Linked DNA regions of Homo sapiens: region 1 is linked to region 2. Evidence: fine-mapped expression QTL. A gene starts in region 2. The other region holds a variant in brackets. All regions are shown on one strand. Distances are from middle to middle. Region 1 overlaps KLHDC10 (kelch domain containing 10). Region 2 holds the start of KLHDC10 (kelch domain containing 10).

What was found. PIP is the estimated chance that this variant, and not a neighbour inherited with it, causes the effect. A credible set is the group of variants that fine-mapping cannot tell apart.
Region 1: its variant is the best candidate, but not a certain one, in a credible set for the expression of KLHDC10 in prefrontal cortex (BrainSeq, PIP 0.57).

Annotation. Positions count from the first base shown.
Region 1 is chr7:130,133,300-130,138,682 of GRCh38, forward strand. KLHDC10 (kelch domain containing 10) reads left to right here. Exons shown (of 10, transcript NM_014997.4): 10 at 1-2,406. Among named protein-coding and RNA genes, the nearest start is that of LINC03008, 5.7 kb to the right of the region's middle. The variant C/A (reference allele first, on the strand shown) is at 2,811.
Region 2 is chr7:130,067,823-130,073,196 of GRCh38, forward strand. KLHDC10 (kelch domain containing 10) reads left to right here and starts at 2,712. Exons shown (of 10, transcript NM_014997.4): 1 at 2,712-2,987. The coding sequence starts at 2,822. RefSeq lists enhancers at 2,227-2,426, 2,457-2,646 and a silencer at 2,747-2,916.

The sequences.
Region 1 (5,383 bases), 65 kb after region 2:
TTAGGAAAGTTTATGCCTGCTGCTTCTCTGCCTCTTTGAGGTACTCCCAGCCGTCTTACTACAGTCCTGTAAATTTAAGTGCAATATATAGAAACATATGGATATATACAGATTATATATAGGGTGTAACTATAAAGCAGGTAGACTACTTTTTTGCATCTTGGGGAAGTGAGCTCATTACTTTAGGTTCAAATTATGCCAAGAATTTTAGATGTGATCAGCTGGCTTAAGCCAACTCATGTCATGATAAAGCTGGATTTTCAAGTCCATGTTTTCTTACTCCAACTCTTAGAGACTCATTGTTCCTTAGGTTTGTTAGAGTTGAGATTTTTTTTCTCCCTGTCATCTTTGTACTCTCTCATGTTTGCATGTCTTACATTTTGTTGCCGGAGAACAAGGAAGTCCATCTGTAAGGAGTTTCCTAAACGGAGAATTAAAACCTAGTATTTAACACTAACCATTCTCCTATGTATATACTAATTTATCTGGGAATGTAATACTTTATTAAATGAAGAAAATGATGCTTTCTTCATTTAATATTTTCCACATCCTGGAAAAACTATAAACTGACACAGAATAGGTTGAAATCTTAACTGGGGCTAAACAAAACCCTTTCCATTGGCAGAATCTCCTTTTTTCAGGGCCATAATGACATGATGTAAAAATTTGCTTTAAACCATTCATGCCCTTAAATAGCTAGATTTTAAAGCATAATAAGCATATTAACATTTTTAAGCAAAAGATACGTTAACAGTGACCTTTGGTTATCCACAGTAGCAAGAGTAAAGCACAGATCATTGAAATCCATAGATAATCAGTGAATCAACTTTCCTACCAAACAATAGATTCATTTACATTTCTTTTTCCTCCCTATCCTTTCCTGTAAGCACCTGTTTTTCCATGGAATGGGGTTAATGAGTAGGTAGAAAAGGAAAAGGAATAATCAGTAGGAGCTGACAACCAGTGACCATATAAGCAGCTGATTGCCTGTAATTAGTCAGGCTGAACAATTAGAGTTGAATGCTGAAATTAGGAACCACAGGTGGTAATCCTGAGTAGATGTAGCTCTTCAGCGTCATCTCCTGCCCTGAGCTCCAGGCCATCTCTCTAACCACCAAAGAACTCTTAGTACCTACGGGAAGGAAAAGCTGTGTGCGACACAGAGGAAACTCCATTATTTGAACACATTTCTTTGGCTCTTGACAAATACTTGCTTTTCCTCTAATCTTGCAAGAGCTATGGCTCTTCTATTTTCCAATCACACAGCTTGGCATGTAGGAAAGGTTGAATGATCCTCTAAGACTGTGTTGGTCTTCGTATTCTGTAAAACCCATTTTTTTTTTGTGGTCTTACAGATGTTTAGAAAGTGGCACAGGTTACTGAATTGTCTACCTGCCAGCATTCTGATATAGCACAAAAAGCTATTTTCCTTTATTTTTTGTATTATTTTTTATTTTTCTGGCATTGAGCTCTAGGGTGGATGAGGGTTTATGGTCCTCTGATCATAAGCTCCATTCTAAAAACTGGTCACTGTTAGCTGAAATTGCTTTGGTTCCCCAAATGCCTTGGAACTCCAGACGCACCCGCAGGGCCTGAGGTAGGCTTCATAGAGTTCTAGGACTTCCGTGTGCGTTGCCACCAGATCCTGCCCAGCAATGGCCTTTCCCTTCTAAGGTCATTAGATTCAGCCAAAAGCGACCTCTTCTCTAGTCCGGTGTTACGAACAGAAGTTCTGAGTTGTGCTACAAAAGTAGTTCCATCTTTTTGGTGTAATTTTCATGTTTTTAATTTGAAAAAAAAAAAAAAAAAAAAACAACTTTTTATAAGTTTTTTAAGGGCCCTGCTTAGTCAGTGTACAGGGTGGAGTCAGAGGCAGTTTTCAGAAAAAAACAAAAAACAATTTCACCAAGCGGTAGTAATTGTTGTTTTACTAGTTATACATTTAGAATATAAAGGAGGCATCAGAAAACACACTCTCTAAAGCCACTTCCTTGTGCACAGAGTCTGCACAGGGAGAGCACAGGCATCTCCCTGGAAAAGCACCTGCCAATGACGAATTTCATGGAAGAACCTAGGCAAGAAAGGAAGCCTCTTTCTGAGACACAGTCTCTGAGAGGTGAGCCTAGCTTTGCTCTTCCTACAGGGTATGCTTGGGCCATACACAATGCTCGCCTTACTTTAAAGCTATTTTGCCACAGTCCTGTTAAATAGTGTGGACGTCCTTTTGCAGTCTGGTGTGCATGCCATATGATCAGGACAGCTTTTCCACTTTACTCGGTTTCCTACAAGCAAGTAGGAAATACAGTGAATTTACCCTAAAATGTCCAATCTGTATTTATGTACCTTGTCAGTGTTTTGCTGTTGGTTTTCTAAAACAATCTGATCAATAAATCTTATCCAAATCAATTTGGTTCAAGTTCACCTTGATTGTCTAATGGTAATTTGTGTGTACGTGAGCGCACCTATATGACAGAAGCGTCAGTCCTACCCACCTCCACCAGGCTCAGCTTTTCTCTGTAATATCTGTGAGTCATCTGCCTTCCACCCCCACTCCACTGTGGGTTCTTTATCTGCTCATTATCTGGAACTCCTGGACACACAAGAGTTCCCTCACCAGCACACTGCTCCCTCCACAAAGACATCAGCAAGGGAGCAACTGTCGGGCAGCCCACACTCCCTCTCACTGCCCCACCCCATGTTCCCCAAACCACTGCTAGACAAGTTTGTATAGGTATATCAAGACTTTTCTGAAGGGTTGGAAGAGCTACAGAGAATTCAAAGGGAAAATGTGAACCCGTATATATAGTCAT[C/A]TGACTGTCTTTATGATCTGAGGGAAGAGCCCCAGGAGCTGCTGAGCCCTGTGCAGGGGTCCTCTGGGGGTGAAACTACACTTCCTAGCTCTGCCCTTGGTCTTCCAGATGCTTCCCTCACCAAAACAAACCTCTGTTTTATGATGCTGTGATCTCTAATCCTCTAATCCTTCTCCATGCAGTGCTTTTCTCCATGTCTGTGTAGTCCAGAGTAGGTAGGGAAGGATACTCCCAAGTCTGGTCACTTTTAAGGTCTCCCTTCTAGAACTGAACAGATGCCTTGTATTTTTCAGTGTTTCCATTGGTTAACTATTGGATCAAACACACCTTCCATGGACAAATAATCTTAGATATTACAATATACATCTACAAGGAAGAAGAGAAACAATTTCTACCCATTCATCCACCTTACAGTTAATACTTTATTATGCAGAGCAGTCTTCTTTCCTTGGGTTTATTTCTCCTAACTATACTCCTCTCCAAGCTACCAGATATAAGAAATGCACCCTATACCTTTCAGTCTTCAGACCAGCCAGAGCTTTGAAATGGACTCTTATGTGCATCTGATTTGGTTCTTAGATAAGGCATCTAAGACCCATCTTGGCCTAGTGGGAGGAGTTTCAGTGGCCTAGTTGGTTTGCGTGGTTTTGTTCTTCCAGTTTATGTGTATATAATTCTAGTTTGTTAAAATGATGTTGTTAAGCTACTTTAACAACAACCACATTCTCTTGTAGTTAATCTTCTGCAGTAATTGCTTGAGGGAAGAAAACATTGGTAAAACCATCCAGTTTCCCTACTGCCTTCAAATGAAAGGCCAGGTTCTAGCCCAGTGCTAGAGCAATAAAGCTTTCTGCAATGGTGGAAATGTTCTGTATCTGCACCACCCAATATGGTGGTAGCCACAAGCCACATGGGGCTTTTGAGTACTTCAAATGTGGCTAGTATGGCTGAGAAACTGAATTTTTAATTTGATTTAATTTTCATGTATTTATAGGGAAATAACCACACATGGCTAGTGGCTACCTCTTAGTGCAATTCTAGGAAGAGATGACCTGGGGGTTAGGAGACAAGGGCTCTGCTCTTGGCTCAGTCCATAATAGCCCTGTTCTGTATGCAACTTGCTTTTCTTTGGGTCTTGGTTTACTTATCTGTCAAATAGGAGGAGGTTGGCTAGATAATCCCCAAGATCTAACATTATTTAGGATGTTTGGCCAAAAAAGGCTGCAGCATAATGGTGAGTACCATAGGTGTGCAGTGCTAGGACTGGAGTTACCTCTTAAACTCGATCCTGATCTTAAGATCACTGATCCCACCGTGGTGGGAGGTCTGCTGCCCGCTCCAGGTGGTTCCTTAGTGAGTGGCACAGTCAGGATTTCCACTTGCATAGTGCAGGCTCCAAGAAAAAGTATTGAAAATGGAGTAGGGACTAGAACACGGCCACTGCCAAGCCACCTGTAACCCACTGGTTTCAAAACCATGATCCATACTTGTTAACAATACAGATTCCTGGGCCCAAACCCCAAGGATTATATTTTAATAAGTGTGTAATTTTAATAAACTCTTTCATTGATTCCAATTCAGCTGGTTTAAGACATTTGGGAACCCCTGACCCACAGCTGAGCTAACTGGCCAGTGCCGGCCAAGATGAGAGATTTTGTTACCTTACTTTTTATTGTCATATTTCATTGTCCAGCAGGAGACTTCACTGCAAAGGCCAGAATGAACATTTCCCAATCCTTGCCCATTAGAACTCAGTGGCAGACCGAGTACACAGGTATTCTCCGCTCCTTCTTGGAGAACCACTAAAATAATAACAAAATGGCCCTAGTTTCCTTTTCTCTGAAATGGGGCTAACAGTAGTAACCTCTCTCCATACTAGCTACTTATTTCATACTGTGTGGCTGAAATAAGTAGATATGGGTAAGGTACTTCAAATGACGCCTGGCATATAGTAAGCATTATGGAGATATTCACTGTGATTGCTCTCTAGTTGATGGAATAAGAAATAAAACTGAAGGCTGGGCATGGTGGCTCACGCCTGTAATCCCAGCACTTTGGGAGGCTGAGGTAGGCCGACCACCTGAGGTCAGGAGTTCGAGACCAGCCTGACCAACATGGAGAAATCCCGTCTCTACTGAAAATACAAAATTAGCCGGGCGTGGTGGCGCACGCCTGTAATCCCAGCTACTTGGGAGGCTGAGGCAGAAGAATAGTTTGAACCCAGGAGGCAGAGGTTGCAGTGAGTCAAGATCACACCATTGCACTCCAGCCTGGGCAACAAGAGCGAAACTCCAACTAAAAAAAAAAAAAATTTACTAAAAATTACAAAGTTAACCAATAAAGAAGAAACTAAATGTAGGACGAGGGAGGGAGGGTGGTGATGCAAGTGAGCTGAGTCCTGCTCTCCATAGCAGGAAGGGGATAAACAGAATGTCTCAGATTGAAGCAACAGCCAGGTACACGTGTAAATTAGAGAGTAATGGTGGATATCAGGCCAGACATGGTGGCTCACGCCTGTGATCCCAGCACTTTGAGAGGCTGAGATGGGCAGATCACCTGAGGTCAGGAGTTTG
Region 2 (5,374 bases):
TTGGGACTACTAAAACTTTTTATGTTATGTTATGTTATTTTATTTTATTTTATTTTTATTTATTTATTTTTTTTGAGACGAGTCTCGCTCTGTTGCCCAGGCCGGAGTGCCGCGGCGCTATCTTGGCTCACTGCAACCTCCGCCTTCCAGGTTCAAGCGATTCCCCTGCCTCAGCCTCCAGAGTAGCTGGGATTGCAGGCGCGGGCCGCCACGCCAGACTAATTTTTTTTTTTTAAATATTTTTAGTAGAGACGGGGTTTCACCGTGTTAGCCAGGATGGTCTCCCTCTCCTGACCTCGTGATCCGCCCCCCTCGGCCTCCCAAAGTGCTGGGATTACAGGCGTAAGCCCCCGCACCCGGCCATTGTATGTATGTATGTATGTATGTATGTATGTATGTATGTATGTATGTATGTATTTTTGAGACGGAGTCTTGCTTTGTCGCCCAGGCTGGAGTGAAAATGGCACGATCTCGGCTTACTGCAACCTCTGCCTCCCGGGTTCAAGCAATTCTCGTGCCTCAGCCTCCCGAGTAGCTGGGATTACAGGCACCCACCACCACGCCTGGCTAATTTTTTTGAATTTTTCGTAGAGACCGGGTTTCACCATGTTGGCCAGGCGGTCTTGAACCCCTGACCTCAGGTGATCCACCCACCTCGGCCTCCCAAAGGGTTGGGATTACAGAAAGTGTTAGGATTACAGACATGAGCCATCGCGCCCAACCAAAACTTTATATGTTATTTTCTTATTTCATCTCTCCCAGTTGATTAATTAAAAAGTGTTACTTAAGAATCTACTTTGGCTGGGCGTGGTGCTCATGCCTATAACCCAATGCTTTAGAAGGCCAAGGCAGGAGGATGGCTTGAGGCCAGGAGTTCTAGACTAGCCGGAGCAACAAGGCAAAACCACCCCCTCATCCCCACACACTGCCCTATCTCTACAAATTTGCTTTGCAAATTGGGAAAACAGCATTTCATAGGATTTCTGTGAGGATTAGACAGGTTAAACATGTAAAATGTGTAAGACTGCATTTTGCCTATATACATAAAAAACTGGCCAGACGCAGCAGCTCACACCTGTAATCCCATCACTTTGGGAGGCCAAGGCAGGTGGATTACCTGAGATGGGGAGTTGGAGACCAGCCTGACCAACATGGTGAAAACCCATCTCTACTAAAAATATAATTAGCAGAGCGTGGTGGCACATGCCTGTAATCCCAGCTACTTGGGAGGCTGAGGCAGGAGAATTGTTTGAACCTGGGAGGCAGAGGTTGCAGTGAACCGAGATCATGCCTCTGCACTCCAGTCTCGGCGACAGAGTAAGACTCCGTCTCAAAAAAAAAAAAAAACAGTTAACATATATTAATTTTGGTTTTTATATTTTAGAACCATAGGCTTTTTTTTTTTTCAAGTCTCAAACATTTTCATAAGCAGCGTGCTATGGTGCTAGTGACTAAAACATTTCTGCCTACAGGGACTGGAAGTAGGAAAACAAGGAGGCAGTGCCAGTGGCGACCAGAAATTTGCACACCAGGTACAAAGGGTATTTGTCCTCAGCTCCAGCAGAGTTTCTTTTTTTTCTCTGCAACCATGTAAGGTTCTTCTAATGCAAAAGAAAAAAAAATCTGTCACATCTAAGGACCTTGAAAAGTTTTGTTTCCCTTGAGGAATTTGATATGCTTTTTCCTTATCATTCAGAAACATCAGTGTATAGTATGTTTTCCCAGTCTGCATTGCGCCCAGTAAGTTTCAAGCCAAAATTTCTGTTTAATTTTGGAACAATAGAAACTCCTGATCGGCACATTAAAAATTTTCTTTGATCTTGATCTTCCATACCCGTTGCTGCCTTTTATTTAATTTTACATTTCCTCTTGATTATATATCTTCCAAGCTGATTAAAATTTTCTACTAGCCAAAAGGAGTTTGAGCGAACAAAAATATTTACAGAGCCATCAGCCATCTATGAGAATACCTTTTTCTTGGCATTCCACACACTGCCAGGTGTTATTTGAAAAGTCTTTACTGATGTAATAAACCAGAAATGGTTTCTCATTGGGGTTTTATTTTGTATTTCTAAGATTACAGGTGAGAGTGAACATTTTCCCATATTTGTTAACCAGGTTTAAAACTGTTTGATTGGGACGTGGCTTATACAGGGACAAATGCAGCTAAGCCGACTGAAAGACAAATGAAACCCAGGAATATCTGGTTCTTACATTTTAGCTTTGACTCCGCCCCTGGGTCCCCTCACCTACCCGGACCCCAAGCAAGCCCTTTGTGTGTGTCAACCATCAGTGAATGGGATCTCAATCTGAAAAGCTGGCAGAATACCGTCTTGCCCCCAAATATGTGTATTATGCGTATATCCAGTGTCTGATTGCAATGTTTATGGGAAAAAGTTCCTGAATCCTAACCAAGACTGAGGCACTGGCCGTCCCCGGGAGTCTTTCCGCAGGCGCGGCCTCTGACACTCGGTCTTCGATTGGCCCGCCTGGCCCCGCAGGAGTCGGGGTGACGCCGGCCAGCCCAGAGCGGACGATGAGAGCTAGGAGTGGCTGCTTCTGCCTTTCTCTCCCCCTACTTTTTTTTTTTTAGCCATAGCTATGGTTACCACGTTTCTCTCCGCCTCCCGCCACCTACCAAGAAAACGACTGACCATTGGCTGCCTTTCACCAAGGCGGTAAGTCATTGGTCTCTGGTGGGACCGGGCGCTGCCCCCTTCCCCTGTCTCCTGGGTCTCTGGAGGAGCCCAGGAAGGAGGCTCCGCTGGTTCCGCTGGGTCAGGCGCTGACGGGACCGGGCTGCGGCAATCGTTAGCGGGTCATGTCGGCCGCCCAGGGCTGGGACAGGAACCGCCGGAGGGGAGGAGGCGCCGCCGGCGCTGGTGGCGGAGGTAGCGGGGCCGGCGGGGGCAGTGGGGGCAGCGGGGGTCGGGGGACTGGCCAGCTCAACCGCTTCGTGCAACTCTCCGGGCGGCCGCACCTGCCAGGTGAGTCGTGGGACAGGGTCCTGACCGCTTGCGGGCGGGAAGGTGACTGCTACCTTTTCTTTTTCTCCCTGGCTTGCTTTTCCTTGGGAGGAGGAAAGGCAGGCCCCACGCATAGCAGAGGGACTGGGGATCAGAGAAAAGGGAAGGTGTCTTTGAGGTCAGGGAGGGAACAGGAGCACAGCGAAGAAAAGTATCTGTGCTCTGTTGAAAGCTCTGTGCTGAGAGTTGTGTTTTCTTTTCAAAGGAGAGGCCACTGTCTCATTGACATTTCCAAATGTTTCGGTTACTCGATTCCCAATCTCTTCCCCTTCCGCAGTTTGATCTTGTAAATGAAAGACATTGGCGCCTAGCTGTGGGAAATTATTTCAAAAAGGGTGCCAAGTTAAGGAGAGAAGAAGGAAACGCATTCCAAGGAGTGATTTTGTAAAAACTACACGGGGCGTGTGTGTAAGAGGCATTCTGAAACGGAAGAAAGGGGTGGGGGAGTGTTGGCTGGGGAGTGTATGGGAAAGAGAACCTAGAGGATTAGGGAAAACTAGTTGGATTATTAATATTTTGGAATGTTCAGAGACAGGATAATGGTGTCTAGGTTTTAAGGGGAGAAAGTGAAGATCAAAAATATACTTAGTGACACAATTATGCTGTGTTTACAATATAAAAACAACTGAGAATTGGAAAAATGTACCCAATACAATTATTTGACATTTTGGTCTACAGTGCCCTAGCCTTGAGTTCAGATGCTTTTGAAAACAAAATAAAATCAAGTGGATATGTATGTGTAGACAATTTTAAAGAGGTATGTTTGTAATTGAATATTCAATCTAGTAGAAGGAAGGTAGGGAATTAAATAATGCAGAGAACGTCAAATATCCCACTGGGCAAGCTTATTTTTACTATGAAAAGAACTATCAGGAATGATGTGTTAATTATTCATCGTGTTTTTTGTGAATAATATTGATTATATTAGTGATATATTTGTTTAGCTGATGAGTTTTGAGAACATGATGAATTGGTTTTTATGAATTGTGCTTAAGACTGTACCTTATACTTCTAGTCAAAAATTATTATTTGATTAAATTGAAGATGACAAAGGGAATTTAGCACATTTAATGAGACAATTGCTTATGTTCGTGATGAGGTTGTTGATGTGTGCTAGAAATGTACATTACCCCATTTATATGCATTAAATCGAGGCATTTGTAAGTAGTCATATAATATACCAGAAGTTGGGTTTGAGACGTTAATATCAGACTGGGCATCCTAGAATTGCTAAATATACGATCTTTAACATGAAAAAGAAAAAAGGAGCAATCTTTTTTCTTACTCCCAATTAATAATAAAAACTTAGATTTTTGTGTATTGGCAGCTTAGAAGATGAATCTCTTAGCAAACACTGTCACCAGTTTGCCCTCTACTACCGCAATCTTTAGGTCTTTGATCACGGATTAATTATACCATGGGCTTCAAGTAGGCATTCCTAGGTTCCTAGAACCTGCTTGGTGCACTTCCTCACTTCAACCACGTGATGGCAGTGGAAGCCATGATTTCTGCTAAGGGGCTTCAGTGTAGAGCTATTTCTGCATTCCCTTAGCACACAAGACCAAGAACAGCCATTTATCCGGAGGTAAAGATAAACGTGTCTAAACTGTGAAAATTTGTAAAGCGGGGTCATCAGTCTCTTTTTTCTGCTTCCCTTTTCTCTTGACTGACACTTCATTGCTCCTTTACTCATTCTCAAAATTGGGACACATCTGATACCTCAATGTATTATGTAGTTTGAAATTCTTTCATACCAATTCTTTATTCTGCTAGGTATTGCATTTTAAGCCTCTCCCTTTTCTTGCATTTTGATAGATTTTAAAAGATTTTAGGTGATGGGGAGGAATAGGATGTCTAGGCTTGGTTGACGGGCCTTGGAGATAAAACCTTTTATTTTAAATTTATTTATTTATTTATTTATTTATTGAGATGGAGTCTCACTCTGTCCTCCAGGCTGGAGTGCAGTGTCGCGATCTCGGCTCACTGCAACTCCACTTCCTAGGCTCAAGCAATTCTCCTGCCTCAGCCTCCTGAGTAGCTGAAATTACAGGCGCCCACCACCACGCCAGGCTAGTTTTTGTATTTTTAGTAGAGACGGGATTTTATCATGTTGGCCAGGCTGGTCTTGAACTCCTGACCTCAGGTGATTTGCCTGTCTCAGCCTCCCAAAGTGCTGGGATTACAGGCGTGAGCCACCTCGCCCAGCCAAATTTTTTATTTTTTTGAGTGTACTATAGCGGCTGGTCGTGGTGGCTCACATCTGTAACCCCAGCACTTTGAAAGTCCAAGGTGGGAGGATCACTTGAGCCTAGGAGTTCAAGGCCAGCCTGGGCAACAAAGCAAGACCA